Regions from separate parts of the Homo sapiens genome. Here region 1 is linked to region 2. Evidence: fine-mapped expression QTL. Tissue or cell type: whole blood. Region 2 holds a variant in brackets; the other region holds the start of a gene. All regions are shown on one strand. Distances are from middle to middle.

Region 1 (14,209 bases), 36 kb after region 2:
GCATTTGAAGAGGAGGAACAGAGCCTGGCATGCATTAGGTGTTCAATCAGAATGCACTGAATTGGGCTGAATGATTACTGAGGAAGCAGCAGTTAGTTTTATGGGAAATGAAGCATAGGAGGTGCAATACTTATCAAATAAGCCAGAGAAGACTTACATCAGGATATAAACCTAGTGTGTATGTATACATATGTATTTACTGTATATGTACATATATGTGTATATATGTACATATATACATGCACACAATCATTTTAAACCTTTATAGTTGTGATGGGAAGAATTCTAATATGGTTCCCAAATTCCTTGTCTTTGGTATACATCTACCTTCTCTCAGTTATTCATTCAAAGACTGTTCTAGGTATTGCTGTGAAGGGATTTTGGAGATGTACTTAAGCTCCCGAATAGGGAGATTATCCAGATAGGCTTGACCTAATCACAGGAGCCCTTTAAATCTGGATCTAGAGGTCAGAGATAGGGGAAGTTGGAGCTTCAAAGAATGAGATGGATTTGACATAGGGAAATTCTCCTGCAGCTTGAAGATGGAGGGGTCCACATGGCAAGGAGTGCAGCTTAACAGAAGGAGCTGAGCAAGGCCTGGCTGCAGCCAGTAAGAAAATGGGGACCCTAGTCCTATAACTGCAAGTGTCTTAGTCTGTTTTGTGTTGCTATAACAGAATACTGGAGGCTGGGTAACTTATTAAGAAAAGAGGTTTATTTAGCTCATGAGTCTGTAGGCTGGGAAGTTCAAGAGCATAGTACTGCATCTGGCCTGCTTCTGGTGAGGGCTACATGCTCACCAGAACAATGGTAGAGAAGTGGAAAAGCCAGCAGGTATATACAAAGAGATCATGTGATGACACAGGAAGCAAGAAAGAGTCTAGGAAGTTGACTCATTTTTATAACAACTAGCTCCCTGGTAATACAGCCCCTCCAGAGCAAGAACTCACTCACCTCTGAGAGAGGGCATTAATCTGTTCATGAGGGCTCCAACCCCATGACCCAAATAGTTCCCACTAGGTCCCAACTCCTGACACCACCACATTGAGGATTAAATTTCAAGTGAGTTTCAGAGGATATAAACTCAAACCATAGCAGCAAGGAACTGAATGTAGCCAATAACCTGAATGAGCTTGGAAGCAGCTTCTTCTCCAGAGCCTCCAGAAAGAAGTTCAGTCCACCTGAGACCTTGATTCTAGCCTCGTAAGGCCCTAATACGGTTTTCTTCTATGTACCCACCCAAATCTCATGTCGAATTGTAATCCCCATGTATTGAAGGAGGGGCCTGGTGGGAGATGACTGAATCATGGGAATGAATTACCCCCTTGCTGTTCTCGTGATAGAGTTCTCATGAGATTTGGTTGTTTGAACGTGTGTAGCACTTCCTCCTTTACTCTCTCTCTCTCCTGCTCTGGCCATGTGAAGACTGTGCCTGCTTCCCCTTCACCTTCTGCCTTGATGGTACATTTCTTGGGGCCTCCCTAGCCTTGCCTCCTGTACACCCTGTGGAACTGTGAGTCAATTAAACCTCTTTTCTTTTAAATTACCCAGTCTCAGGTAGTTCTTTATAGCAGTGTGAGAAGGGACTAATACAGGCCCTGAGCAGAGAACCAGCCACAATGTGCCTGAACTTACCACCCACAGAATTCTGAGCTCATAAATGGGTTAAAGCTACCTAAGTTTGTGGTGATTTGTTAAACTGCAATAAAAATGGAATATAACAGTGTTGCTAATGTATCAAGCATTAATCTTTAAATTAATCTTTAAACTTATCTTTAAATTAGTTTTCCACTTTGATTTCCTTTGCCATCTTTGGCTCTGAATGGAATTCAAGTGAGAAGACCCTAGAATAGCAAAGAGAAATTTAACACAGTAAATAGAAGTCACTGTGCTAATTATTATTTTTATTATTATTTACCATTTGGAGAACAGAATTGGTGCTTTCAGGAAGTGACCATGCCCGTGTATATTCATGAAAAAATGTCCACACCCATGGAGCGTCCTCAAGCTGTCACAAAGTCTGAGAGTAGAAATAGGGCCTTTCTAACTTCCTCTTCAGCATGTGATATTTCTATCAGGGAAGGGGTTAAAGATAAGTCCAGCAAGGCCCCATCACTCCTCCTGAGCACTAGCTCTCTTGAGGGAGCCACCATAAAGAGAATGGTGAAGTTTAGTCTTAATGGACTTACTTTCTCCAAGATTGAGTAACTGATGTGGGATATAACACATGAGTGATTCACTTGGGTTTGTAAAAAAATATTCTACAAGTGATTCAGAAGAAAAATAAACATGGTTCTCTGGCATGAGACCATGGAAAGGTAGGGTAACCAAAGGATGGTGAGGCTATAAAAAATACAATTCAAATTTGCCAGTTGTAAATTTTCTTATTAAGGAATTAATGAGGAAAGTCTCTAAAGAAGCTTGTGTGGCAACACTTGTGAGCACTCTTGATTAGATTGACTCAGATTTTTAGAGTATATATGCAAAGTAGACAAAAAGACATATAACCAGGAACTGATCTACCAGCAAGAATCATTCCTGGAGCCAAACCCAAATTGTGCTATGCAGAATAAATAAAGATCATTTTCCAATACTATGTCTAGAGTAAGGAATAGTTGTGCCCAGGTAGATCCTGCTGGTGGATGGTCAAGTGAAAGTCAGCTTCCTTAACTCCTACTTAGCTTTTGTCCTCTTCGTTTGTGAGGGGATAGTTAGAAGAAAGAAAAGAGCTTGCTACCCTACATAGGTTCAAGTCTTCCAACATGGATGTAGCGTATTCTGGCAGGTTCATACAATTTTCACATGAGATGGATAAACCATTGCAAATGATCTTCAATAAACCTTGAAGAAAATGGAGAGATGTAAGAGGACTAGAGATGAGCAAAGAACAAGGAACTTTGTACAAAGGAAGAACCACCAGAAGTGTAGATGATGGTAACTTGAAGTCAAGGCAAAGCAAGGTCTTCAAGTGATGGCTTGTGTATCCCTGGTAGAAAAAACAGCAGTTCCCGGGAGTCAGGAGCTTTAAGAGCAGATTAGGTCAGATTGCTTTCCATTTCTTCTTGCACAGAGTCAGTAATTGGTCAGGGAAATATGGCACGCATAATAACAATAATGTCCTTGTGGACAATGTGGGGACATGAGAGCTGTATGTGGGCTTAGAAACAAGCTGAATGGCTATGCACAGTTGATATCAACTCATTAACAATTATTGATGAGTTGAAATCAAACCCAAGAATATGCATGATATGGATTTCTGTCCACAGTCATCTTCAGTTCAACATATTCATCAATCAGTGATTAAAATATACAGAGGGTTAAAGTGTAGAGGAAAAAATACACAGAAAAAAACTTGATGTCAGAAGTTGGAAGGAATACTGGGTAGATCGGATGAAATGCCAGTGCAGTAAAGTACCAGCTCCCCCGTTCATCTCCAGAATTGTATTTTCTCTTAAAAACAAAACAAAACAAAACAAATCTAGTTAATTAGTCCACCAAGATGGCATTTAAAAAAATGTTTCTGAGTCATGCACAAAGATGGCATCTTAATGCCTTAATTTGCATTTTTATTACTTGTAAGAGAGCATTTGCTCAAAGTTTTATTGATCATCTGTAATCATGTTTTTCATGTGATTTACCTTTTCGTAGAATTTTCTCATTTCGCTATTGAGGTATGTCTTTATTAATCTGTAACACTCTCTGTATGTTAACTTCTTGCCCATTATTCTAGATATTTTATCCAGCTTGCCATTTGCCTTTTAATCTTGCTTATGGTAGTTTTTGGTATAAGAAGTGCATGCTTTTTAAAGTGGTTAAATCTCTCATTCTCTTAAGGTTTCTGTGTTAACGAATATGCTTAGAAATTTCTTACCCCCTTTAATATTAGGTAAATATTCACTAACATTTCCTAATCCTTTTAGGTTTCAATTTAAGTCTGTAATCCATCTGGATTTTATTTTGATATATGGTGTAAGCTCTAGTGATCAAAATTATTTGATTCTAAATGGTTAGCCAATTTTCTCAGCACTGGTTATGAAAAATTTATCATTTCCCCAATGATCTGAAACAGTATCAAAACAACAAAAACAATAATAATTAACAATAGCTAACATTTGCTTATTGCTTATTCTGTGCCAGGCACTGTTTCAACCTGTACTAACTCACTGACTTCTCCCACTACCTAGAGGTGGGTAGTATTGCTATCATTCCCATGTTATTACAGCATCCCTCAGTGTGGGGACTGAGACACAGAATGGATGAATAACTTGCACAAAGTCACACAGGCAGTGGTGGTGTTCAGATAAAGACTTGGACATCTGACTCCAGTATTCAAACTTTGAAAGTATTTGATATGCTTGGATTTGTTTCTAGGCTATTTTGTTCCAATGTATTCATTCCTATTCTAATACTGCACTGTTTTACTGTCTTGCAATTCAAGTCACTCTCCTAATATTTTTTCTTTACTAATTCTTCACTTAATCACTGTTTCTCCTTCCATTTTATAATCTAGTTTCTTGGCTGGGCATGGTGGCTCATGCCTATAATTCTAGCACTTTGGGAGGCCAAGATGGGCAGATCGCCTGAGGTCAAGAGTTCGAGACCAGCCTGGCCAACATGGTGAAGCCCTGTCTCTACTAAAATACAAAAACTAGCCGGGCGTGGTGGAGTACACCTGTAGTCCCAGCTACTAGGGAGACTGGGGCAGGAGAATCGCTTGAATCCGGGAGGTGGAGGTTGCAGTGAGCCGAGATCATGCCACTGCACTCCAGCCTGGGTGACAGAGCAAGACTCTGTCTCAAAAAATAATAATAAATAAAAATAAAATAAAACAAAATAAGTAATCTAGCTTCTTAAAGTGTCAAGGCCATTTTTCTTCTATAGACTAAAAGCAACCAAATAATATAAGCCATGTTTTCTAGAAAGGCTCTTGGCAGCATTTTTTGAGAATTAGTAACCGCCCAATGAGTTTTCCTTGCCTGCTGCCTAGACAGAGCTGATTTATCAAGACAGAGGAATTGCAATAAAGAGCTTAATTCACACAGAGCCAACTGTATGGGAGACTGGAGTTTTATTATTACTCAAATCAGTCTCCCTGAAAATTCAGGGATGGGGTTTTTAAGGATTACTTAGTGGGTAGGGGGTAGGGGATGGGGGGGTCAGTGAGTCAGAAGTGCTGATTGGTTGGGTTGGAGATGAAATCACAGAGTCGAAGCTGTCCTCTTGCACTGAGTCAATTTCTGGTTGGGGGCCACAAGATCAGATGAACCAGTTTATGGATCTGGGTGATGCCAGCCGATCCATGGAGTGCAGGGTCTGGAAAATATCTCAAGCACTGATCTTAGGTTTTACAATAGTGATGTTAGCCCTAGGAGCAATTTGAGCAGTTCAGAATCTTGCAGCTTCCAGCTGTAGGACCCCTAAACCATAATTTCTAATCTCATGGCTAATTTGTTAGTCTTGCAAAGGCAGTCTAGTCCCCAGACAGGATGGGGATTTGTTTGGGGAAAGGGCTATTATCGTCTTTGTTTCAAAGTTAAACTATAAACTGAGTTCCTCCCAAAGTTAGTTCAGCCTACGCCCAGGAATGAACAGGGGCAACTTGGAGGTTAGAAGCAAGATGGAGTCAGTCAGGTCAGATCTTTTTCACGGTTATAATTTTCTCGGTTATAATTTTTAAAAAGGCGGTTTCAAGTTCTGCAGGGCTGTTTAACACAAGGTGTATTCTATGGCTGGTTTTACTAGTGCCAGGTACTGTACTGAGTTTCCAATAGAAATGCACTCCTCTTAACCTGGCTGTAAAGACCTGAGTTGTACTTAGCCACTCCCACCTTGGTTCCTTAAGGGAATAATAATAGTACCCAATGTGAAGGCTGGTTAGAAGCCTAAATGAGTGAATATTTGTGAGGTGCTTGGAACAGTGTCTGGCACATAGTAAGTGCTAAGTAAGTGTTTGCAAATTAAAATGAAATTTTTGCTCTAATCTAGAACATGATTCTCTAAGTCAGTCACTTGGCCCACATGTGCAACTCAACTGTGAGTGTTTTTTAGTTTATAATCGGGGATCTCCCTGGAGTTGGCATGTGATGGTCCCCAAATAGAAAGTATGTCTTTCAAAGTACTTTTATCCTCTCAGTAAACCTGCTGACCTGAGCAGGGAAGTATGACCCTTGTTGAGGTATGGAGAAAATGACAGGTGACTCAACAAAGGATATTCCTTTGCTCTATCTGACCATCAGGGCTATCAGTTTTGGAAACCAAATTCAAATAATATCATAATGACTTGTCCCTCCATGCAAAAGAAAACGGCCCATAAAAATCTATCAAATGTAATTGATTGTGAGAGGACCAACAAAAAATGTAACACGTTGCATAGTATTTGTGTGCTCAACAAGATTAGCTGTTTTCTCCCTTGTAACTTTAACATGGTCTGGCTTTACACTTCCTTTTCAGAAATACCTTGTAACTGTAATTTCCTGAGGCTGCATATCCACAGGGCCAACTCAGGGGACACACAGGCATGTTGGGCATTCTTGGGATTCTTTGTTAAATGGGGCCAAGCTCTGGGTTAAAATGGATTGAGCACAGTGGGGTGTGTGCCTCCTGGGAGGTGGTGATGCCGTGCACTCTGGGCTAAGCCTGTGGTTTTGTCCCACAGATTCGTCACTCATGCTGCTGCAGATGGCGGGTGTTGGACTGGGTTCCCTGGCTGTTGTGATCATTCTCACATTCCTCTCCTTCTCAGCGGTGTGGTATGTGAGGGTGTCATTTTTGAGAAATGACTGGAATGGAGGGGAGGATGGGTCAGAGTCACGAAGAACAGCTGGGGATGAGGGGAGTCAAAGGGAGTGTGGGTGGAGGTTGTCCTTGGCTCAGCAGAGCACACTCAGCGGTGAAAGGCATGACTAACCCTGTACCTCCAGGTAGCATGGGGGATGCCTTCCCAGGAAAAGAGCAGGACCAGTGATGGCTGCCCTGGCCACACACAGAGGGGTGGCTGAGCTTCCATGCTGCTCCCCCTCGCCTCCTCCCATGGGTGTGCGTGTGAGCTGTGCATAGAGATGCACAGTGGGAAAACCAAAGTGTGTTCATATTTGTCTCTTTTCTTTTCCTCCTCCATGTCTAGATGGCAGATGGACACTGAGTGGGGAGGATGCACTGCTGCTGGGCAGGTGTTCTGGCAGCTTCTCAGGTGCCCGCACAGAGGCTCCGTGTGACTTCCGTCCAGGGAGCATGTGGGCCTGCAACTTTCTCCATTCCCAGCTGGGCCCCATTCCTGGATTTAAGATGGTGGCTATCCCTGAGGAGTCACCATAAGGAGAAAACTCAGGAATTCTGAGTCTTCCCTGCTACAGGACCAGTTCTGTGCAATGAACTTGAGACTCCTGATGTACACTGTGATATTGACCGAAGGCTACATACAGATCTGTGAATCTTGGCTGGGACTTCCTCTGAGTGATGCCTGAGGGTCAGCTCCTCTAGACATTGACTGCAAGAGAATCTCTGCAACCTCCTATATAAAAGCATTTCTGTTAATTCATTCAGAATCCATTCTTTACAATATGCAGTGAGATGGGCTTAAGTTTGGGCTAGAGTTTGACTTTATGAAGGAGGTCATTGAAAAAGAGAACAGTGACGTAGGCAAATGTTTCAAGCACTTTAGAAACAGTACTTTTCCTATAATTAGTTGATATACTAATGAGAAAATATACTAGCCTGGCCATGCCAATAAGTTTCCTGCTGTGTCTGTTAGGCAGCATTGCTTTGATGCAATTTCTATTGTCCTATATATTCAAAAGTAATGTCTACATTCCAGTAAAAATATCCCGTAATTAAGATTGTTCTTCCCTTGGTTAATTTTTCTGTTACTAAGCGTCTTCTAAAAATGCTCTTTGCCCCCTGTTAGAAACTGAGATTTGGTGGTAGTGTAGTAGCAATGCTTAAAACAGTATTGAGCCCATGGCTAGACTAGAGTCCATGTGTGTTTCAGGGGAGGGGTTGCCATAGAGGGTGACACTTCTTTTATCTAAACTTCAGTAACTATGAATGTTACTCCATTATGAACTATGAAACATTAGATATAAGCGGTGCTGGACCTACTGTGAATATGCTAAGTTGACAGCTGGAGTCTATTTGATTTTACTTTTAAATCATGAATTGGCATTCTTTCCTCTTTTTTTTTTTTTTTTTTTTGAGATGGACTCCCACTCTGTTGCCCAGGCTGGAGGGAAGTGGCGTGATCTCAGCTCACTGCAACCTCTGCCTCCCGGGTTCAAGTGATTCTCCTGCCTCAGCCTCCCATGTAGCTGGGACCACAGGGCCCCCCCACCACGCCCAGGTAATTTTTGTATGTTTAGTAGAGATGGAGTTTCACCATGTTGGCCAGGGTGGTTTCAAACTCCTGATCTCAGTTGATTCGCCCACCTTTGCCTCCCAAAGTGCTGAGATTACAGGTGTGAGCCACACGCCCGGCACTAACTAACAATTTAACTCCAAGACTCAGTAAGAAACGAATGGGGAAGGAAAGACAGAGGCTTCTGGCATCTCTCCTTCTCCCTTGCCTGCTAGGCCTAGAGAAGAAAAACCATGGAGGAGGGGAGGTGATACTGCACAGCCTCAAGATGCAGCATAGACGAATGCAGTCCTTAGCAAAAGGAAAGGGCTTCCCAATGCAGTGGGCCGGTGTGTTCACCGGCTTGCTGGGTGTCAGTGAGGGAAGACTCTGAGTGCCTTGGGCTTATGGGCAGATGAAGAGACAAGAGGAACAAGTACAAACTGCCCATGTAGCTGCTCCACCCCAGGGAGTCCAGAGTGTATCCGCTCTATTGGGAAGAATTAGAGAGAGGCGAGTAATATCCTGACATTCAGGTGTTCAATGCCAGCTGTCAGCCTCTGGCCCCTGCCAGTGTTAGGAATGATTCCCCTGTCCTCTGGGGTACTGCCCTCCGACGACAACTTAGGATCAGCATTTAAAACCCTTTCTGCTCTCGTCTTAGGTAAATTATAGACCAGAACGGGTCTATAATGGGGACAGGTCCCCATCCTAACCCCCAGAGACCGTTTCTCTCAATAGATGAATACAAATAGCTCTCAATTTTTAATTTTTATGTGCAATAATGCAAACATACTTTTTTTTTTTTTTGAGACGGAGTCTCACTCTTTCTCCCAGGCGGGAGTGTAGTGGCGCTATCTCGACTCACTGCAAGCTCCGCCTCCCGGGTTCACGCCATTCTCCTGCCTCAGCCTCTGGAGTAGCTGGGACTACAGGTATCCGCCACCGTGCCCAGCTAATTTTTTGTATTTTTAGTAGAGATGGGGTTTCACCGTGTTAGCCAGGATGGTCTCGATCTCATGACCTCGTGATCCACCCGCCTTGGCCTCCCAAAGTGCTGGTATTACAGGCATGAACCACCACGCCTGGCCGCAAACATACATTTTTATAGCTCCTGAACTAAATTGGGTATCAATACAAATTACTGTGGTTAGTGTAGGGCTCGGCCTCTGATGAGTGAGGATCTTTCCTCAAAGCCCACCTTTGTCCAAAGAAAGAATCTGAGCCTCCCCTTGACTTATTTTATTTTTTGCCAGTTTTGTAAATGCTGTATGCTTCCATACTACCCCCTTCCCTAATTTCCACCTCTAGAATTAACTGCCAGAGATACAGTTGTCCACATGGAATGTAGTATAATTGTGATAGAAAGGAAGAAATCCCCCTTGCTTAGTATTAAAAGTTTCTGGTTAAAATAACTGACTAAATATTAAGTAAAACATCACCTTCTGGGTACAATGCAGAAAAGTAAAAGCAGTTCATATAAGATTACTAAACTTTGGGAGGTCTTCAAGACCAGCCCTGGCAACATAGCGAGACCCCATGTCTGCAAAAAAAGTTTTAAAAATTAGCCGGGCATGGTGGCGTGCACTTGTAGTCCCAGCTACTCAGGAGGCTGAGGCAGGAGGATCGCTTGAGCCCAGGAGTCTGAGGTTGCAGTGAGCCGTGGTGACACCACTGCACTCCCGCCTGGGTGACAGAGTGAGATCCAAAAAAATTTACTGAAATAACAAAAACGTGGACTTTGGGATTTCCTCTAACTGCTGCAAATTATAACACAGAATTGCTCAGTGTTAATACTTGAATTGTGGGGCCAAGTCTTCTGGCTGCCCTAGTTCTCTTTTCTGGCATTTGAAAGCCCTTGAGCTAGCTATGGAGCTAATCTTTGGACAGGCTTTTTGGTTCCCAGGAATGTCATGCCTTTGAATTTCCAATCTATATATATACAGTGTGTGTGTATGTATACCTGTCTTTTCACTGTAAGGCACCTCCACCCATCCCTTATAGAAGGAGCCACAAACAATCAAGCAAATGGATGGAGGTTAATTAAGGGGAAGAGGAAATAGTCTGTTCTCTGACTCGAGACCTGAAATTGCAGTGGGGCACGTAAGGTAAGACCAGAGCAGAAGTGATTATCTTGAAATTCCACTTTAGCTTGGAATAAAATTAATATTTAAATTGATTTTAAAGGAAATAAAAAAGAACATTCAGTGTTCCCTTTTCATTGCTAATCTCACATTTTCTGATTTTCTAAACCTTTTGTTTTCCCATTCTTTTCTTCTAAGAGGAACTCAATGGTCTCATAGAAGTCAATCAAATAGCGTTGTAAGAACCTTTTACCTACCACATCCTTTGTTGGTTAGACTGAACCAACAAAGCAGTGCCTGCTTCTGGGGAGGAAGGATGTGGCCTTTTCTGTGCCCCAGTTTGTGGGAGGGTGAGTCCATGAAGCAAGTCAATTTAAAAGGCAGTGTGTGCTCTTGTTTCAGAGAGAGTGAATCCTTTGGGTGGTGGTGGTGGAGTATGTGTGTGTGTGTGGTGGGTGGGGGGTGGGGCATGCACATCTAGATCCATACTTTTTGGGCTCAACTCAGGGTTACCAAAATAGAGTCAAACTCAACTCAGGATTACCTAAATGGAGTCAAATTTTGTGTGTGGTTTTGTAACATGATTCTTTCAGTCATCATTTCCAGGCCACATTTTTCATGTCACTCATGACTGCATTATAAGTTTGTACCATAATTCATTTAACCAATACTCTGTTGTGCATTTAGAATATTTTCAGATGTTTATTGTCCTTATAAAAGTCAGTATGAAGGTATGCAATTATCACTTAGGCCACATTCCTGGAAGTAAAATTGTTGGAATGGAAACTATGTACATTTTACAGTGCAGATTGCTGGAAGAGTTTTATGCAAAAACTTATACAAAAATTTACACTCTTACCAGCAGAAAGCCTCAGCGCCACTGAGTGCTGTTGTATTGTTAATCTTGATTAATCTGGTATGTGAAGAAGGATGTTTCAATGTTTTGTCTGTGTCTCTCTGATTATTTTGCTTGTTGATTGGCCAGTTGTTAATTCTGTCTTTGTGAGTTGTCTTTTTCTCAGTACTTGGCCTATTTGTCTTTGATTTGAAAAAGCTCTTTATGTTGTAGTCATTTTAATTCCTGTCATATGTTTTGTAAACAATTTTTCGAGTTCATAATTTTTCAATCTTGTTTGTATTATATTTTGCCACACAAAAATTTTAAATTTGTATAGTCAAATTTATCAGTCTTTTTCCTTATGTTGGACCTTCTAATCTCAAGGTACTAAATATAATCTAGCATTTTTTTAAACATTAAAAATTTTTAATCCATCTATAATTTATTTTAGGATAGGGAGTGAGGCAGGGGAAGGTATCTTTTTAAATAAAAATCGTTGCTAAATGGTTGGCTAGTTGTCCTATTAATAGTCATTGAGACCAGGAGCGGTGGTTCACCCCTGTAATCCCAGCACTGTGGGAGGCTGAGGTGGGAGGATCACTTGAGGTCAGGAGTTCGAGACTAGCCTGGGCAACATGGCGACACACAATCTTTACAAAAAATAAGAATTAACAGAGGCCAGGCTCAGTGGCTCACGCCTGTAACCTTTGGGAGGCCAAGGTGGGTGGATCACTTGAGGCCATGTGTTCAAGACCAGCCTGGCCAACATGGTGAAACCCTGTCTTTACTAAAAATACAAAAATTAGCCAGGCGTGGTGGTGTGCACATGTAGTCCTAGCTACTTGGGAGGCTGAAGTGGGAGGACCCCTTGAACAGGGGAGGTTGAGGCTGCAGTGAGCCATGGTCATGCCCTGTACTCCAGCTGGGTGACAGAGCAAGACCCTGTTTCCAAAAAAAAAAAAAAAAATTCATTGACTGTTTTTTTCTGTTAGTGATTTGAAATCATATACTGAATCATATGCTGAAGTCTATTTCTGAACTTCTTCTTTTGTTCTACTGATCTATTTCTGTGCCAATACCACCTACTGTAACTTTAAAATAGGTTTTTGTTTATACCAAGTAAGAATAAGTTACCATTATTTTTCCATTAATTTTTTTTTTTTTTTTTGAGACAAGGTCTCACTCTGTCACTCTGTTGCCCAGGCTGGAGTGCAGTGGCATGATCTCAGCTCACTGTAACCTCTGCCTCCCTGCTTCAAGCTATTCTCCCACCTCATCCTCCCGAGTAACTGGGACTACAGATGCGTGCCACCACACCTGACTAATCTTTATATTTTTAGTAGAGAGGGGGGTTTCACCGTGTTGGCCAGGCTAGTCTCGAGCTCGTGACCTCACGTGATCCTCCCGTCTCCGCCTCCCAAAGTGCTGGAATTACTGGCATGAGCCACCGAGGCTGGCCTGAGTATTCTAGTTTATAACTTACAAGGTCATTCATATGTATATGTTGTTGTGCTTGTCTAGCTATTTTATATTTTGTTATTCTGAACTCTTGGCCTCTATCTCAGCTCCAGCCCCTGAAAGTGCAGGAGTGCTTTTGCTCTGCCAGTCGGCCTTTTTTGGGAAATCATATCAAGATGGCTTTTCCAGCACAATTACTTCCTAGAGTGTCTGCTTGATGCATGGAAACTCATAGATTTTTGGCATGCCAAACAGAGGGTTTTCCTGCCGTCACTGCTGGCTCCAGCCACAGACTTCAGTTTTCTTACCTGTTAGAGCCTTTGTCCTCTGACTGGTGGAAATGGAGCTTGCTTCTTTTTGTTTTGCCTGCCACTAGTCTGGCAGCCTCCACCTCTTGACCCTTGGGTTTCTTATCCTTGGAATCAGATACGAGGCCCTGTGTCTTCTGTTGCTGTAGAGGACACAAGTCATATTCTCTGAGTGGAGATCTCTCTGAAGCTCCTCTTTCCAGGCTTGTACTGAGGGACCTCTGGACCCTCTACCACGTGGTGTCAAAGCTGCCAAGAGCTGTCATATGCTGGGTCTGTAAATTGACTTTCTCACCTCTGACCAGATGCATTCACTTGAGCGGCACAGAGATTTGGGGGAGTGAAAGGGCACTGTTTCTTTGGGTCCGTGGGCTTGTGTCCCATCCCCTAGCCTTGGGGTTAGCAGGATTCAGAATTTATGAGTGTGGTCTGCAAAAGTCTACCTCTACCAGATGGGGGAGAACCTAGTGTGTGGACCTGAAGGGTTAGCTCTGTGCTTTAGTCCCTGGGAGTGGCCATCTTGAGTCTTGGTGGGCTTGGCAAGTAAGGAGACATTGACCAGATTCAAAGCTTCCAGAGGTGGTGAGAACTCCAGGGCCGAGTAATGGAGAGTACAAAGGTCCTTCTTGGCCCCCATGACCCTTCCAAGCCAAGAACTTGGCAGTAGCTGTGAGAAGCAGAGATAGGGAGAGGAGGTGAGGGGCACCTATAGCTCTTAGCCATGAGTTATGACTCCCTCCATCCAAGGGAGACCCAAGGACATGAAAGGGGACTCAGTTCCAAGGATCAGAGGGAACTTGGGTTGTTTTGGGATAATGACTGTGGCTTGGGATGTCACGGAGATGAACACCAGAATTGGTGTGCAACAGATGAGCTCCAGTACCCCTGATAGTTTGCATGGGTTTTGCTCTGCTGATGATGGTCAGGGACAGCAGTGAGGCCCTCTACAATGCCGCCTTCTGCCTAAACACAGGCAGTGCCCACAAAAGGGGAGCTGTCATTATGGAGCCTAGGAATGGATAGTCAGAGAGCAGCGGCTGGGCAGTGCAACTCCTGCATTGGACAAGGTCCTGGCTAGAGAATGTCAATGTCCACACTGCATGTAGCCCTATCGAGGAGATGATGTAGGGGGCTGTCAGCCTTGGAGACTCTAGCCTAAGTACCCCACCACCACTCTGGCTGGCTTCCAAGG
Region 2 (16,615 bases):
GTAGAGATGGTGGTGAGAGGGGCGGGTCTTGCTATGTTGCCAAGGCTGGTCTGAAACTCCTGGGCTCAAGCAATCCTTCCACCTCGGCCTCTCAAAGTATTGGGATTACAGGTGTGAGCTACTGTACCCGGCCTTAACAGTAATTTAAAGTTTGTAATGTTTTCTATTTTCCTTTTATGATGACAGCTTCTGTTTTATGTTGTTTTATTTTATTTTATTTTTGAGACAGGGTCTCACTCTGTCACCCAGGCTGGAATGCAGTGGTGCAATCTCGGCTTACTGCATATGTTGTTTTATTTGATCTTCTTGCTGATCTGAAGAATATTTTGGAGGATGCGTAGTGAGTTATATTTAAGGGGCCACCATTATCTTTGATGATTGGAACTCTGATCGGTAATATATTACGTGCTAACTTTTCCACCTCCGTGTCTTTGTTCATGCCATTTCTTCTACCTGGAGCCCACTCCCTTTTCTTGAGTTCATAGATTTCTTTCTTCCATGATTTCCACTTCCCACCTTTCAAGCTGATAAGTATCTTTCTTTCTGAATTCCCGTAACCTATTTTAACAGGAAGTATAGGTAGTAGTTTGGCACAGTTCCTCTGGAGTCAGATGATCTAAATTCAAATCCCAGATCTGCCACTTACTATCTCTGTAACTTCGGACAAGTTATTTCACCTCTATGTGTCCCAGTTGCCTTAACTGTGAACATGGGAATAACAATATCCATATCGTGGGCTTGTTGTGAAGACCAAATGGATTAAAGCACATGGAGAAACAGCACAATACCTGACACAAGATGAATGTCTATCAAATGTTAACTATTACTTACATTTACTTTCTGACATTTATTATATACTCCCTTGTTTTTAAAACTGTACTTACATAGGCCATAACTTCTCTCCTAGGTGAAATGCATGTTATGGGCAGAAAGCATGTCTTACTCAGAGTACTTATATTCCACTGGGTCAATGCAATACCATTTGCTTAGCTTTCCCCTTATTGCTGATTGCATTTGAACAATCATAGCTGCTGTGATTGTTTAAATCACTGCCCTAGACACTGAGAGTGCAAAGATTAAGAAGATGTCTCTCTCTTCAAGGAGCTATCAGTTCAACGGGGGTGATAGACAAAGATCAATAATACAATATATGAAGCATATTTGAGGTATTTGCAGGGTACCACAGGAGCAGAGAGGAAATAGTGATTGATTTTGCCAAGAGTCGCTTGCCCATACAAATGAAGCAGAAACAAAGTTTCATTAAGAGCTTAATTTTCTCTTTTTTGAGGCATTCTTGCAGTTCTGGTTTTTCAACTTCAGGATTCTAGATCACATTGGCCCAGCGGGTGGAGAAAAGAGAGAGAACACAGAGTAACCACTAAAAATGCATTAGAGAAGGAAGATTTGTATGAGAGACCACCGCACGTATCTTTCATAGCAAAGGATCTGAGAGCACTAGGAAGGGACTTGGGATGAGCTCTACTGGGGATCCTTTTCTCCTCATTGAATGCATCATGGGTTCAACCTGCCTGTGGCTGAAACTGTAAAGCCACTTGAATGGAGGGAAGCGAACCTAGAGTGAGAATGTCACTCCCTGACCCGGGTGGAACTGAATGAACTGAGCCAGTGAGACATTTCCTGTGAGCAGAAGGAGCTGCAGACTCACCACTACTGTTAGGTTACTTGAGCATATGTGTGTGTGTAATTTTAAAAAATGAAATAATTATATATATATTATTCTTCATTTTGCTTTTTTATATTATTCTTTGACTTTTGGCCTTACAATATCCTGTAGACATACTTCCATACCAATTCATGTATTGTCATCTCATTCTCTTTGAGGGAAGCACAGTATTCTATCACATAAAGGTATACTAATTTATTAACTTATTATCTATAGAAGGTTATTTGGGTATTTTTTTTCCCTTTCAAGTTTTTGTCATTACAGACAATGCTACTGTTAATATGCTTGTATATATTATGTTTTATTGATTCTCAGAGGCATATTTTTTTCACATTTTGGTATCTATGAAATCCTACAATTGTTATACAGTCAGTCAGGTGGCTGCCAAGAACATAATTGTCATTGTCCATCTATGCATCATATTGGTCATAGTTGCTCATAGTGCTGTCACTTCTATTTAGTTACGGACACTAGTGGTGCCATTTATTTCTTGAGATCAATTGCCTACTAAAACTTTTTCCAAAAAGCTACATTATGATTTGACATTGAGACATAGTGTTATAATATGTAAAGCGCAATGGGAACAGAACGGCAAAGTATAAGATCAACTTTCAGCATCAGAATGGGTGTCAGTGGATGGCGAGAAAGTTCTGGAAACAAAAAGAGCACATTTTGAAGAAATACTGCCTCACCAAACTCTGGATAGATAGCACATAGGATGTTATTATGTGGAAAAATATAGACACCAACAACTCTTAATTGAGAAGTGATTGAGAAGTGTTTGTTATATTCTGACCGTGAAGAAATTTTAGGAATGTCTCAATTAATTTTGCTTATATTTTTGTCTTATAATATACAATTAAAATTTAATATCTATGTTGGTCTGTAAAAGCTTTTTCAATCAGTATAAATTAGTTCCGTGAGATAAGAAAATAATTGTGGTGGCTGGGGGCGGTGGCTCACACCTGTAATTCCAGCACTTTGGGAGGCCAAGGTGGGCGGATCACTTGAGGTCAGGAGTTCGAGACCAGCCTGCCCAACATGGTGAAACCCTGTTTCTACTACAAATACAACAATTAGCCAGGTGTGGTGGTGCATGCCTGTAGTCCCAGCTACTTGGGAGGCTGAGGCAGGAGAATTGCTTGAACTCAGGAGGCAGAGGTTGCACTGAGCTGAGATTGTGCCACTGCACTCCAGCCTGGGAAACAGAGAGAGACTACATCTCAAAAAAAAAAATTCTTTAAAATCTTCGTGTAAGTTTTGGACATTTCTAGTTAGGTTTATTTCTAGGTATTTGAAGTTTGCTTGTGATATCCCATCTCATGAATATGGATCTTTTTATTTTTCTATTATATTCTGCTACTTGTTGTATTAGTTTTCTGTTGCTGCTATGACAAGTTACTGCAAACTTAGTGGCAGAAAATAACATGAGGGCTGGGTACAGTGGCTTACATTTATAATCCAGCACTTTGGGATGCTGAGGTAGGAGGATTGCTTGGAGGCTGAGGTGGGAGCCCAGGAGTTCAAGCCCAGCCTGGGCAACATAGAAACCCTGTCTCTACAAAAAAATTAAAATAAATAAAAAATAAGCCGGACGTGGTGGTGTGTGCCCGTGGTCCCAGCTACTTGAGAGACTGAGGCAGGGGGATCACTTGAGCTCAGGAGGTCAAGGCTGCAGTGAGCCATGATCAGGTCACTGTACTCCAACCTGGGTGACAGAACAGGACCCTGTCTCAAAAAAACAAAACAAAACAAAAACTAAAAGCAACATGAATTTAGTGTCTTATAGTTCTGGAGGTCGGAAGTGTGAAATCAGTTTCACTAAGCTGTAATCAAGGTGTCAGTAGGCCTGTGTTTCTTCAGGGGCGGGGGGTATCTAGGGGAGAATCTATTTCCACGCCCTTTCCAGTTTCTAGATCCTGCCTATACTCCTTGGCTTGTGGCTCCATCCGCCATATTTAAAGCTCATCAGTTTAACCTCTGCTTCCGTTCTTAAATCTTCTAACTCTTATGTTCTTGTTGCTCTCTTATAAGGATGTTTGTAATCACATTGAGCTCATCTGGACAATTCAGGATAATCTCACTGTCTTAGTCACCTCTACAAAGTGTTTCTGCCATGTAAGGTAACATACAGGTTCCAGGGACTAGGATGTAGACATGCTGGTGGCGGGTGGGGGTCATTATTTAACCTACCATACTTGTTCTTGAAGATAGATAGAAAATGATCAGTTTTTGTATGTTGCCTTTCTGTTATTTTCAAACAGTTTCATGTTTGATTAGTTGAGTCTCTTAGATTTACTGGCAGTTGCATCATTTGTTGCTCTTTCTGGCATTTATAGCTCATTTTTTTTTCTTGCCTTTTTCTGCATTGTCTAGAATCTCTTGAATAAGGCTCAGTAATAGCTACAAGACCAGACATCCTTGTATTGTTCTTAACTTTACTAGAAATTGCTTAATTGCTTTACCACTGAGTGTGGTGGTTTCTTATAAACCCTATTAAACTAAGGCGTTTCTGTCAAATGAAGTCCTAGCTCACTAAGATTTCAAGTTAACAAAGTATATTAAATGTATTAACAGTTCCATTTATAAAAGTAACCACATGGTTTCTCTCTTTTAACCTATTAATAGCTTTTCCAATAATGATACTCTCTGTATTCTGGGAATAAATCTTTGGTCGTAGTGTATTGTTCTTTGAATGTACTACTGACTTCTTTGTGCTAATATTTTATTTTGGATTTTTGTATTTATATCAACAAGCAAATTTGGCATAGGATGTTTAGTGATTGGCTGTGCCATCCTTGTACAGGTCGGGCATTGTGGATTATTTAGTCATATTAAATGATTTGGGGACCCTTCCACCTTTTTGTATAGTCTAGAACTGTTTAAATACTATTGGAGTTATTTGTATTTTGAAAGTTTCAGAAGTGTAACTTTGGACCACTACTACTAATCTCCAAACCTGTCTCTACCCAGCTGTGGGTCTGCATTAACCTGGAATCATCTGTACTCCTCCTGTTCCTTACCACCTGTTCATCTTTTCCTCCTGTTCCCTACCTGCTCCGTGTTGCAACATTTGAGGTACAGCTTGTGACTTGTACAGGTTTTCTTTGTGCCAAGCTGCCCAATCCATAGAGAGGAGTCGTGTCTACCAACTTGGCTTCATTTGTAGGAACCTGTCAGGCCAGGGAGTTACAAAATACAGCCTTACCTTTCATGAGACCTTCCTTTTTTCACGTAATTTGGGAGTTGTCTTTATCACTCGTTAATCATCACAGTGTTCCTGTGAAACTTCTTAGCAAGTCTGCTCTATTATTTCCACTTTAGGGACAGAGATCCTTATTGAAGGAAGTAACCTCTGATGTCAGGGTTTTGAATAAATAGTCTTTCTTGACTACTTGGATGGGTGTACCTCCACATTAAACTGTATCAGATCTGAACTGTCTTTTAGATTGATTACTATGAAACTGAGCAGAGGACAAGAAATATTTCTTTGCTCACAAGAGATAAGGAAGCCCAAACCAAGAGAATCCCGCCACCTCCTATTCTTTTCCTCATGAAAAACCTGATTGCTTCAAAGCACTTTTTTCAGTTCCTCAAGGAGCAATTCTCTGCTGAAATGTTGCTCTTAGCTCAGAATTTCGAACCGACACTTATTTGTATAAATGAGGGTATACAAGGTCCAGGACAAATAGTTGTAATTTTAGCTTAGTAAGCCAAGGAAGCTTGCAGTAAATAGACTCAAATAATTTTTTTCCTTTTTCTTTTCTTTTTTTTTTTTTTCTTGAGACAGAGTCTCACTCTGTCACCCAGGCTGGAGTGCAGTGGCACAATCTCTGCTGACTGCAACCCCCGCCTCCCAGGTTCAAGCGATTCTCCTGCTTCAGCCTCCCAAGTAGCTGGGACTACAGGCACACACCACCACGCCCAGCTAGTTTTTGTATTTTTAGTAGAGATGGGGTTTCGCTATGTTGGCCAGGCTGGTCTCGAACTCGTGGCCTCAAGTGATCTGCCTGCCTTGGCCTCCCAAAGTGCTGGGGTTACAGGCGTGAGCCACTGTGCCCGGCCCACTCAAATAATTCTTAAGAGGGGTCCTCCGATTAGGTATCTTTGGATCTGAAATCTTTCATCAAGACTGAGTTTACCTAGATATAAAAGTGGTATTACTTTGAGACTGCTACCACTAATTTCTAAATTAAAATACTGTTGAACTCATGCTAACACTTATCCTTGGAAAAATGGCTCAATTAAAAGGTAGCATTTTTTCTATAGAGTGTAAATTGATTTCTCATTTCTTTTCCACTACAGTAAAACAGACCATCAGTAACATTTCAGGATTTAATGAAACCTGCTTGAGATGGAGAAGCATCAAGACAGCTGATATGGAGGAGATGTATTTAGTAAGTGACTGAAAGTTACTGTATTTATAGATGGTTGTCTTATGTGGGAGGCTTAAAAATACCCACAAACCTAAAAATCTACATCTATAACTATCATTATCAGTAGACGATTTACTGTGACAATTGCATCAAGAAGCAAGAAGATGGCCACTTCTGTGTATTTAAAGACAGTGGCTGGGCACAGTGGCTCACATTTGTAATCCCAGTACTTTGAGAGGCTGAGGCGGGCGGATCACTTGAGGCCAGGAGTTAAGACCAGCCTGGTCAACATGGTGAAACTCTGTCTCTGCTAAAAATATAAAAATTAGCCGAGCGTAGTGGCGCATAGCTGTAATCCCAGCTATTCAGGAGGCTGAGGCAGGAGAATAGCTTGAACCCAAGAGGTGGAGGTTTCTGTTAACCAAGATCGCGCCACTGAACCCCAGCCTGGGTGACAGAGCAAAACTTTGTCTCGAAAAAAAAAAAAAAAGGAGGGGGAAGACTGGGATGAACTTCTACTGGAAGAAATTAAGTAAGAACAAAAGGGTGTCTCTTGGCCGAAGTGTCAGGGTGGTTAAGGAAAGGGTAGGGTCACCAGAAGCTGGCAGGAAGAGGAGAAAAACTGTTCTCAGGTTCTAGCAGACCAGCTACGAGTATTCTAATTCAGGTCCTGCTTAGTTTGGATTCCTAATATTCTTTCTAGGAAAATGTTCTTGTCCTTGCTCCTGCAGTTTTGCCAATAGACTTTCTTGTTGTGTATGTGCACTGTATGTGTGAGAATAAGGAGAAAGCTGCCAGTATTGGGACCTTAGCCTTTTGTGTGTTTTTATTTAAAAATATATTTATTATACAAATAATATTTTAAGTACAATATTTATAGTATTGCAACTCTAATATTTGCTTACTGCTGCATTTCACCTTTTGAAGAAACATTAGAGTCCAGAGAGAGAGAGAGAGGAAGAAAGCTCATGAAAACGGGAAGGGGCTGGGCGCGGTGGCTCACGCCTGTGATCTCAGCACTTTGGGATTCGAGGTGGCAGATCACTAGAGCTCAGGAGTTTGAGACCAGCCTGGGCAACATGGCGAAACCCTGTCTCTACAAAAAATACAAAAATTAGCTGGATGTGGTGGCATGCATCTGTGGTCCCAGTTACTTGGGAGGCTGAGGAGGGAGGATCACTTGAGCCTGGGAGGTTGAGGCTGCAGTGAGCCGAGGTCATGCCACTGCACTCCAGCATGGGTGACAGAGTGAGGCCCCCATCTCAAAAAAAAAAAAAAAAAAAGAGAAAGAAAAAGGAAAAGGGGAGGTTTCAAGGCATCTAAAGCCTTTTAGGCCAACCATTCACCCAGTGAGCTTTTTTATGTTTCAGTTCCACATTTGGGGCCAGAGATGGTATCAGAAGGAATTTGCCCAGGAAATGACCTTTAATATCAGTAGCAGCAGCCGAGATCCCGAGGTGTGCTTGGACCTACGTCCGGGTACCAACTACAATGTCAGTCTCCGGGCTCTGTCTTCGGAACTTCCTGTGGTCATCTCCCTGACAACCCAGATAACAGGTAAATCTTGAATAACAGCATTTGGATTAACAAAGTTACCACAGAATTGTTCATAGGTCCTGATAAAGAGGAACACTGTTGCTTTTTATCATTATATAATGAACTTTAACAGGGAGAGGAGGAAGGACATGGAATTGGAGAGGTGCCTTAAGGCGCCTCTGTGACTGTTATGTTTCATTCTTTTTTCTTTTTTTGAGGCAGGGTCTTGCTCTGTCGCCCAGGCTGGAGTGCAGAGGCACGATCATGGCTCACTGCAGCCTTGACCTGGGCTTAAATGATCCTCCTGCCTCAGCCTCTTGAGTAGCTGGGATTATAGTTGTATAGGCCACCATGCCTGGCTAATTTCTGTATTTTTTGTAGAGACGGGGTTTCACTATGTTGCCTAGGCTGGTCTCGAACTCCTGGGCTCAAGCAATCCACCTGCCTCGGCCTCCCAAAGTGCTGGGATTACAGGTGTAAGCCACTGCGCCCAGCCTGTTATGTTTTATTTTTAAAAAGATACCTAATAACCACAGGGGAGGTCTGTGGGGAGGGGGAGGGGGAAGATACCTGAAACAAAATGTCAGCATTGATGAAATGTGGGTAGTGTGTCCATCCATGGTGTTGGTTGTATAGCTTCTGGATATTTAAAGCATTTAAAATACTTTATACTTAAACAAAAAATGCTTGTGGCTCTTTCTTTCTCAGGAATATTTAGTTGGCATCCTGTTGCAAGTACTTTAAGAGTAGATTACTAGCTAGGCACAGTGGCTCAAACCTGTAATCCCAGCACTTTGGGAAGCTGAGGAGGGTTGATCATGTGAGGATCATTTCGAGATCAGCCTGGCTGACGTGGTGAAACCCCACCTCTACTAAGAATACAAAAATTAGCTGGGTGTGGTGTCAGGTGCCTGTAATCCCAGCTACTCGGGAGGCTGAGGCAGGAGAATTGCTTGAACCCAGGAGGTGGAGGTTGTGTTGATCTGAGATCGCACTCCAGCCTAGGCAACAAGAGCAAAACTCCATCTCAAAAAAAAAAAAAAAAAAAAAAAAAAAAAAGTAGATTACTATCAGGGGACAATGATTGTAGTCCTCCGGCTATAGGGCCCCAGTAAATTCACTTTCCACTCATTTTCTCCTCCCTCTTCACATCTGTGACCCCCACTTCACACATGCTCTGAGCAAATACTAAGCATATTAGCTTCTTGATTCTTATTTCACTGAGAAATTAGAAGTAGTCAGGTGAGGACTTCCCACGCTCAGCCCTGCCGTTCCTCCTTGCATCCTGTTCTGCCTCCCTTCCTGTCCCTGCTCGTGTGTAAGGCTGCCATCCCCTCAACTTGTGCCTTAGATCCCATCCCTTCTTCCCTGATCAGCACTTCCCCTCAATACAGAATTATCCCCAGCATTGCCTAGCATGTTGCAACATCCTCCTTGTGAACGAAAAGAAAGAAAAAATGAGCAGACCTTCTTTGAGCCCATATTTGTCTTCAGCTACTTTGCCTTCTCTCTGCCCCTTTCTATAAAAACTCCTTGAAAGAAATGGCTGTTCTGTAGGCTCCACAGCCCTACCTCCTGTTCTCACTTTCACTCATCCCACGTGGGAAACATACGTCTTCATTGCTTTACTGAAAGGCTCTTCGTTTGATCTCCGTCTTGCCAAATCCAATGGCCAGTTTTGTTCTTATCTGATTTCTTCGATAGCGTTGACACTCCCTCCCTCTTGAAACCCCCTCTCCCTTAGTTTTGGTTCCTTCTGCCTTGCTGTCCCCTCTCAGTCTTCTTTGCTAGCTCCATCTACTTTTATGACCCCTCTT[C/A]AGCCTCCTTTTCTTCATTATCTACCCTTTCTGCTTAGGTGATCTCAACCAGTCTTATGGCTATAACTATTACCTATATGCAGAGGATTTCCAAAGATCAATTTCTAGTCCCAGCCTCTCCTTTGAGCACCAGACTCCTATATCCACCCAACTTCTACACATGTCCTATTGAACATCTAATACGCAAATCAAACGGAACTTGTGATTTCTCACCTCTGCCCTCGCCCCCAAATCGGTTTCCACCCAGGCTTCTCTGTTTCTATCTGTTACTTTCTGTCTGTTATTGGAATTTCTGTTCACCCAATTGTTCAGACCAAAAACAAGTCCTAATTGGTTCTATCCCATCCCCAAATTTCTAATCTGTCAACAAGCCCTGTTGGCTTGCTGTCTGAAATATATTCTGAATTCCACCACTTCTCCCCACCTGTGCCTTTTCCACAACTACCCTAATCCAAGACAGCCACCTCTTGCTTGGATTCCTGCTGTAGTTTTCAAACTGGTTTTCTCTTGCCTATATACCTCCCACCCTGGACCTTAGTCTTAGTCTTCACCATAACTTTCAAAAGATCACTCAGCACTCAGAGTGATCTTTTAAAAATGCATTTGGGAACATGTCAGCACCAGCTCAAAACTCTCCAGTGAGTTTCCATTAAAGTTAGAATGGAATCCAAGTTCCTCATCATAGGACATGTCATCTGGCCCCTGCCTACTTCTAATTCATCTCCCCCTGCTCTCCTCCTTTCCCATTAAGCATCAGCTGTCTCCCTGGCCTTCTTGCAGTTCCTTCAATGGGTCAAAGTTTTTCCAGCCTCCAGACTTTTCCATCTGCAGTTCACACTTCCTGGGACACTGTCAACATATGGCTTCTCCATAGTTGTTCAGGTGCCTGCTCAACTGCCATCACCAGCCTCCACGCTAGTACTCTGTATCTACTTACCCTGCTTCAATTTCTTCATAGAGCTTCATATTAATAAAAAATATTAATTATTAGTTTTTAGAGATAGGGTCTCACTCTGTCACCCAGGCTGGAGTGCAGTGGTGCAATCATAACTCACTGCAGCCTTGAGCCCCTGGGCTGTAGCAATCCTTCTGCCTCAGCCTGCTGAGTAGCTGGGACTATAGGCGCTCACCACCATGCCTGGCTAATTACAAAAGGGATTTTTTTGTTTTTATTTTTTGTAGAGATGAGGGTCTCCCTATGTTGCCTAGGCTGGTCTTGAACTTCTGGCCTCAAGTGATCCTCCCATCTCACCTCCCAAAGTGCTGAGATTATAGGCATGAGTCTCTGTGCCCAGCCTAGAGCTTGTTTTCTAAAAACTTATTTTTTTTTTATTTTCTTTCTCTCCCACTAAAATAGGAGCTTCCTGAAGACAGTGATTTTTGTCTGTATGTTTTACATTCAACCCTCAGTGGGTAAGAATGGTACTGATAGATAGCATAACAGCCCAAAATTTTAAAATAACAGCCAGTGGGTGGTATTGGTGTTGAGGAGATGTCTGGTTAGGCAATGAATTCTGGCTACCAGAAAGAATTCCCCACATTTTGGGCTGGAGAGACAAGTGGTGTTCAGTCTGGGCATTTCTTTCTGTGGTGACTTATTAAAATGAATAGCGACTCCATCTCCATTTCCTACTCTGTGGTCTTTCTCATATTTGGATGCTGTGCTTTTCTGGTTTGAAGGACCGTTGCATATTTTTTTGAGTAAAGGGGAGGGGGTTTCATCTTGATGAGACACTTACTCCTTGTTTGGTAGGCTGAATAGAGCTTTAGTGGCTCAAGTTCCCTCTCTCTGTGCTCATGGCCACCAGGGGACATTGTTGAGCTGTTTAATGTTCATTGAGATGCCTATTTTCCAACTCTACCCACTTTAAAGGACTCGTAATTTTAAAGAAGCATAAAAAAATCAAGTTGCTTTGATCTTATGAAAGAGTTAAAAAAAAAAAAAAACCAACCCCTTTCTTTTATAAAAGGAGGAAAAAAGAGAAGCTTATGTGTTGATGTGCAGAGATACTCGTGGTTTCCTAAGAAGTGTGTGGCCTTATTTCGGTAAAATCATGAACTTTTGAATTTTGGCAGATGTGTTAGGCTAAGGATTTGGGTCTGGACAATGTAGCTGCTCATTTCCCAGAAGGAAAGAGAGTGGAATTTCCCTTCTGAGTGTCTTACGTTAAATCTTACTGATGGGAACAGGATGAAAACAAGTGCTTTAAATACATCGCTGACCTCAGAGGACAGTGAAGGTTCTAGGAATGTTGAGGGACAGAGGCAAGTGTTTCGGTGAATGCAGGAAAGCAGGGGCTGGCGAGGGGGTGGGTGAGATGGAGCTGTGGCCTCACGGTGTTTCTGACTCTTGGCTGATAGGCTGCAGACGGCACATTGAACTGAATTCTTCAGGATAGCCCCACGGCACGCATCCCCTTTAGGACAGGGTGAGGAACAAACTTTCATCCTTGATGCAGGCCCCAAAGAGTCAGAAGAGCATCCACATGTTGAGTGTGCTATTTTCTTTTTCTTTTTTTTTGTTTTGAGACAGAATTTCGCTCTGTCACCCAGGCTGGAGTGCAGTGGCGTGATCTGAGCTCACTGCAACCTCCACCTCCTGAGTTCAAGTGATTCTTATGTCTCAGCCTCCCAAGTAGCTGGGATTACAGGTGTGTGCCACCACGCTTGGCTAATTTTATATGTTTAGTAGAGATGGGGTTTCACCATGTTGGCCAGGCTGATCTTGAACTCCTGGCCTTAAGTGATCCGCCCACTTCGGCCTCCCAAAGTGCTGGGATCACAGGTGTGAGCCACTGCACTGGCCTCCTTCCCTTCCTTTCCCTTTCCCTTTCTTTTTTTGAGACAGTCTTGCTCTGTTGCCCAGGCTTGCTCTGTTGCTTACGCAGTGGTGTGATCTCGACTCACTGCAACCTCTGCCTCCCAGGTTCAAGCGATTCTCATGCCCCGACCTCCCAAGTAGCGGGAATTACAGGCACACATCACCAGCCCCGTCTAATTTTAAAAATATATTTTTAGTAGAGATGAGGTTTTGCCATGTTGTCCAGGCTGGTCTCAAACTCCTGACCTCAAGTGATCTGCCTGCCCTTAGCCTCTCAAAGTGCTGGGATTACAGGCATGAGCCACTGTCCAGCTGAGTATGCTATTTTCTTGCTAAGTCTAAAAGCTTTGTAGGCAACATTTTCTTATATAGAGAGAGAAAGAGGAAACCAGAGAGAGGAGGATGGGGGTGGGTGGGGGCGGGGTGGGGAAGAGAGAGAAAGAGAGAGAGAGAGAGTGAGCGTGAGAAAGCCAATACATACGTAAATGTGGAGATAAACCAGACCACTTGTCTTACACAACATGGTGATCATTTGAGATGGAATGTTTATTATGGAACCAAGCATGCTGGAGGAGCAAAGGGAAGAAAAGATGAAAAGGAAATTATTTATTCCCATGTCTTCAGTACCAAGGCTGGCAACTTCTTCAAGAAATTTCCCATCTCTCATTGTATTCATAACAAGAAAAAGGAAAGTACTTTTTCAGACGGTTAGGAAAACAACAGAAAACACAGGAGTGTCCCAGGCATTTATCAGATTGTCACTTTATCAGAGAGGTCCAGCCAGGACTGCCCTGATCCTCCCTGCCCCTGCCTCTGACACCGCCCTCCACAATGGGATGTCCTCAGGGAAGACTGTGCAGGACTAGGTCTCTTGGTTTCTTTTACCGAGGCTTCTCTTTCATGGTTGGTTACCCACAAACCATCCAAGGATGCTGTACCCCTGTGTCCTCAGTGAGAAACCCATCTCCCCTGGCTGGTTCCAAGGTACCACACTTATCCCTGGGGGCCCCCCTGGCTCCAAGGGGGCTGAAGCTGTACCACAGGTCAGCAGAGGGACTGGCCTTCATGCCAGCTGTTTTCCTTTCCAAGTCTTCCGTGGACACAGGCTCTTTTGATATCTGGAGCCCTAACATTAGGTCACGCTAGGAGAGGCATGTTTGCCCTTCCATGCTTCCACAGTCCACGTATTTCTCTCATTCCCAGAAATCTCCCAACTGCTTTCTAGCTTCAAAACAAACCCCAAGCCCCCAAGTAAATGGCTGTGTGGGGATGGGTGTCTCCCAGACCCTCTTGCTACCAGCATCTGAATCTCAGCCAAAGTTAGCTTTTATAAAACGTGCATGAGAAGGTATTCTTAGATCAGAAGCCTGGAAACTAGGGTTTCTGTGTGTGTTGGGAGAGGGGGAGGGGCTTGCTGAGCTGTAACAATTTAATTTAGCAAATATTTATTTATTTACTTGTATTTGTTAAAAATGAGATGGGTTGGCCAGGCACGGTGGCTCATGCCTGTAATCCCATCCCAGCACTTTTGGAAGCTGAGGTGGGTGAGTTCGAGACCAGCCTGGCCAACATGGTGAAACCCAGTCTCTACTAAAAATACAAAAATTAGCTGGGTGTGGTGTGGGTGCTTGTAATCCCACCTACCTGGGAGGCTGAGGCAGGAGAATCTCCTGAACCCGGGAGGCAGAGTTGCAGTGAGCTGAGATTGTGCCACTGCAGTCCAGCCTAGACAACAGAGTGAGACTCCGTCTCAAAAAAAAAAACAAAAAAAAAAAAAAAAGAGAAAGAAAGAAATAAAAAAGAATAAAAATAAATAAATAATAAAAGGAGATGTCTTGAGAAGTCACTAGCAAATATTTTTCGATTGGTTATGTACAAAGACCTGTGCTGCCTACTGAGGATGTACATGTGAAAAGAAATTGGTTTCTTCTCCTTGGGAGGTGAAGTCTCATAACTTTATTGATGGAGAAGATATATCTAGCTGATGACTTGTAGTGGAAGACACTATTTTTTCTGTTGCCTTCAATTTTAATTTACCATGCCTTGGATGGGATGATATATCTGGAGAGGTGCCTGAGGATTAGAAAAGAACCATCATGCTGTGTTTATTTTTCTACCTACTTTTTATTATAGAAAATCCAGAAAAGTAGCATTGTACTGGGTTTTTGGGCGGTGGAGTTGTGTTTTAATTCAATTGTTTGTGTTTACTTGAAGTTTGCAGTACAAAGTTGGAGACGTTGCTTAGTTTTGATGCAGATAAAATTTTCTTCCATTTTTGGTTCTTTTTGTTCATTTTGATGGGTTTTACATAGAGACATTTTAACACATTTGTACTTATACTACCCTTTTTCTTTGGTTGATTTAATAGTTTACCTTCATTAGTGATATTAATATTTTGATAAATATTACAAATTCCTACTCCAAGGCTATTTACTCTTTTGTTTTCTTTTCAATTTTTTTTGAGACTGAGTTTCATTATGTTGCCCTGGCTGGAGTGCTGTGGCACAATCATAGCTTACTGCAGCCTCAAACTCCTGGGCTCAAGCAGTCCTCCTGCCTCAGCCTCCCAAGTAGCTGAGACTACAGGTGCATGTCACCACACCCTGCTAATTTTTTCTTTTTGTAAAGATGAGGTCTTACTATGTTGCCCAGGCTGGTCTCAAACTCCTGAGCCCAAGCAATCATTTTTGCCTAGGCCTCCCAAAAAGCCAGGATTATAGGTGGGAGCCACTGCACCTGACCTACTTTTTTGCACTTAAAATTTAGTTTCAGGCTGGGCACAGTGGCACATTCCTATAATTCCAGCGCTCTAGGAGGCTGAGGAGAGAGGACTGCTTGAGTCCAGGAGTTCAAAGCTGCAGTGAACTATGATCATGCCAGTGCACCCCAGCCTGGGCGACACAGTGAGACCACTTTTCTACAACAAACAAACAAACAAAACCAAAACAAAACCACTTAGGTTCATTTGGAATTTATTTTGATGTCTGATATGAGGCTAAATTTACATTGTAATTTTTCTCCCCAGCTGTAAGCCAGTTCCCTATCACCTTTGGAACTACTGACCATCCATGCCACCTGGTGCATTTCTTTGGGTCTCTTTCCAGACTGTCTAGCTTTTTTTCACTGTTTGTCTGTCCTGTGCGTGTACTTTACTATTTCAATTGCTGTAATTTTATGATACATTTAATATTTTTTTTTGCAGAGCAAATTCTCCTTCATTACTTTTCCCCACATTTCCCTCCATGTGAGGATTTCTTTTGCCATTTGCTTCTAGCAGAGGAGGGATATTCCTGACATCCGAGGATGGTAATGAAGGTCTCTGTTCTGGTTCCTCTCCCATCTCACACACCCAAGGTGAAAGAGCTATATTTTCCAGCACAGGCAGGACCCATTTCTTGCCTTGGGTCTAAATCAGTTTAAATCAGTAACGAGGTTGATGGAAAGGAGAGCAGGTCTACCCAGGACATCAGTTTGGGAGACAAGGAAGAGCACCTTGGAAAATTCAGCTGAAAGTCAAGTTTGTTCCACCTCGAAATGTGGCTGAGAACCAGCCTGACGAGGCTTAGGCTTGTACATTGGAGAGAAAAAGTAGACTGTTTAAAATATAAGGCAGCGGCTGGGCGTGGTGGCTCATGCCTGTAATGCCAGCACTTTGGGAGGCCGAGGCAGGTGGAATCACCTGGGGTCAGGAGTTCGGGACCAGCCTGGCCAACATGGAGAAACCCCGTCTCTACTAAAAATACAAAAATCAGCCGTGTGTGGTGGTGCATGCCTGTAATCCCAGCTACTCGGGAGGCTGTGGCAGGAGAATTGCTTGAGCCCGGGAGGCGGAGGCTGCAGTGAGCTGAGATCACACCATTGCACTCCAGCCTGGGCGACAAGAGCGAAACTCCATCTCAAAAAGCAAAAGCAAAAACAAAAACAAAAACAAATAAAATAAAATATAGGGCAGGGAGACCTTAGGCAAACAGAGCAGAAAATGGTCTCAAAGTCACATGTTGATTGAACCAGATGACTGTGGTGCCTTGAAAACTGTGACTCTAGATTGGGAAAGAGTGACATCACCTGGACCAAGCAGGGGGATGGCCTTCCTGCTCGGTCTGCAGTTGCCTCTTCTGAGCTCAGTGAGTACTTTGTTCTGCTTCTCCTGTGTGGTTTTAAAATGTTAGCCAAGAGATTAGAGGAACTAGAATTATTACTCTTGGAGTAAAGAGCTGGTGGGGGCGGGGCGGGGTGGGGTGGGGCGGAGTTCTCACACAGAAAAGAGTGACCAGTTAATCTCCACCTTGGCTGAGAAGAGGAGACACGTAATAAAAAAAGTTAATTTTACTGTGACAACAAAACGTCACAAGTGAAAGGGCATTTCGGTGATAGCAAAGGG

The links.
Region 1: it holds the start of LINC02977, and the variant in region 2 is fine-mapped to the expression of LINC02977 in whole blood (TOPMed, PIP above 0.99).

What each region holds. Positions count from the first base shown.
Region 1 is chr9:112,034,407-112,048,615 of GRCh38, reverse strand. LINC02977 (long intergenic non-protein coding RNA 2977) reads left to right here and starts at 8,192. Exons shown (of 3, transcript NR_186812.1): 1 at 8,192-10,437. SUSD1 (sushi domain containing 1) reads left to right here. Exons shown (of 17, transcript NM_022486.5): 16 at 6,656-6,749; 17 at 7,124-7,833. The coding sequence ends at 7,124. RefSeq lists enhancers at 5,985-6,054, 6,145-6,194, 6,306-6,944, 6,350-7,549, 6,945-7,584 and 1 more.
Region 2 is chr9:112,069,540-112,086,154 of GRCh38, reverse strand. SUSD1 (sushi domain containing 1) reads left to right here. Exons shown (of 17, transcript NM_022486.5): 11 at 5,990-6,081; 12 at 7,431-7,617. Among named protein-coding and RNA genes, the nearest start is that of LINC02977, 37 kb to the right of the region's middle. RefSeq lists enhancers at 1,621-1,700, 8,965-9,064, 12,270-12,439. The variant C/A (reference allele first, on the strand shown) is at 9,414.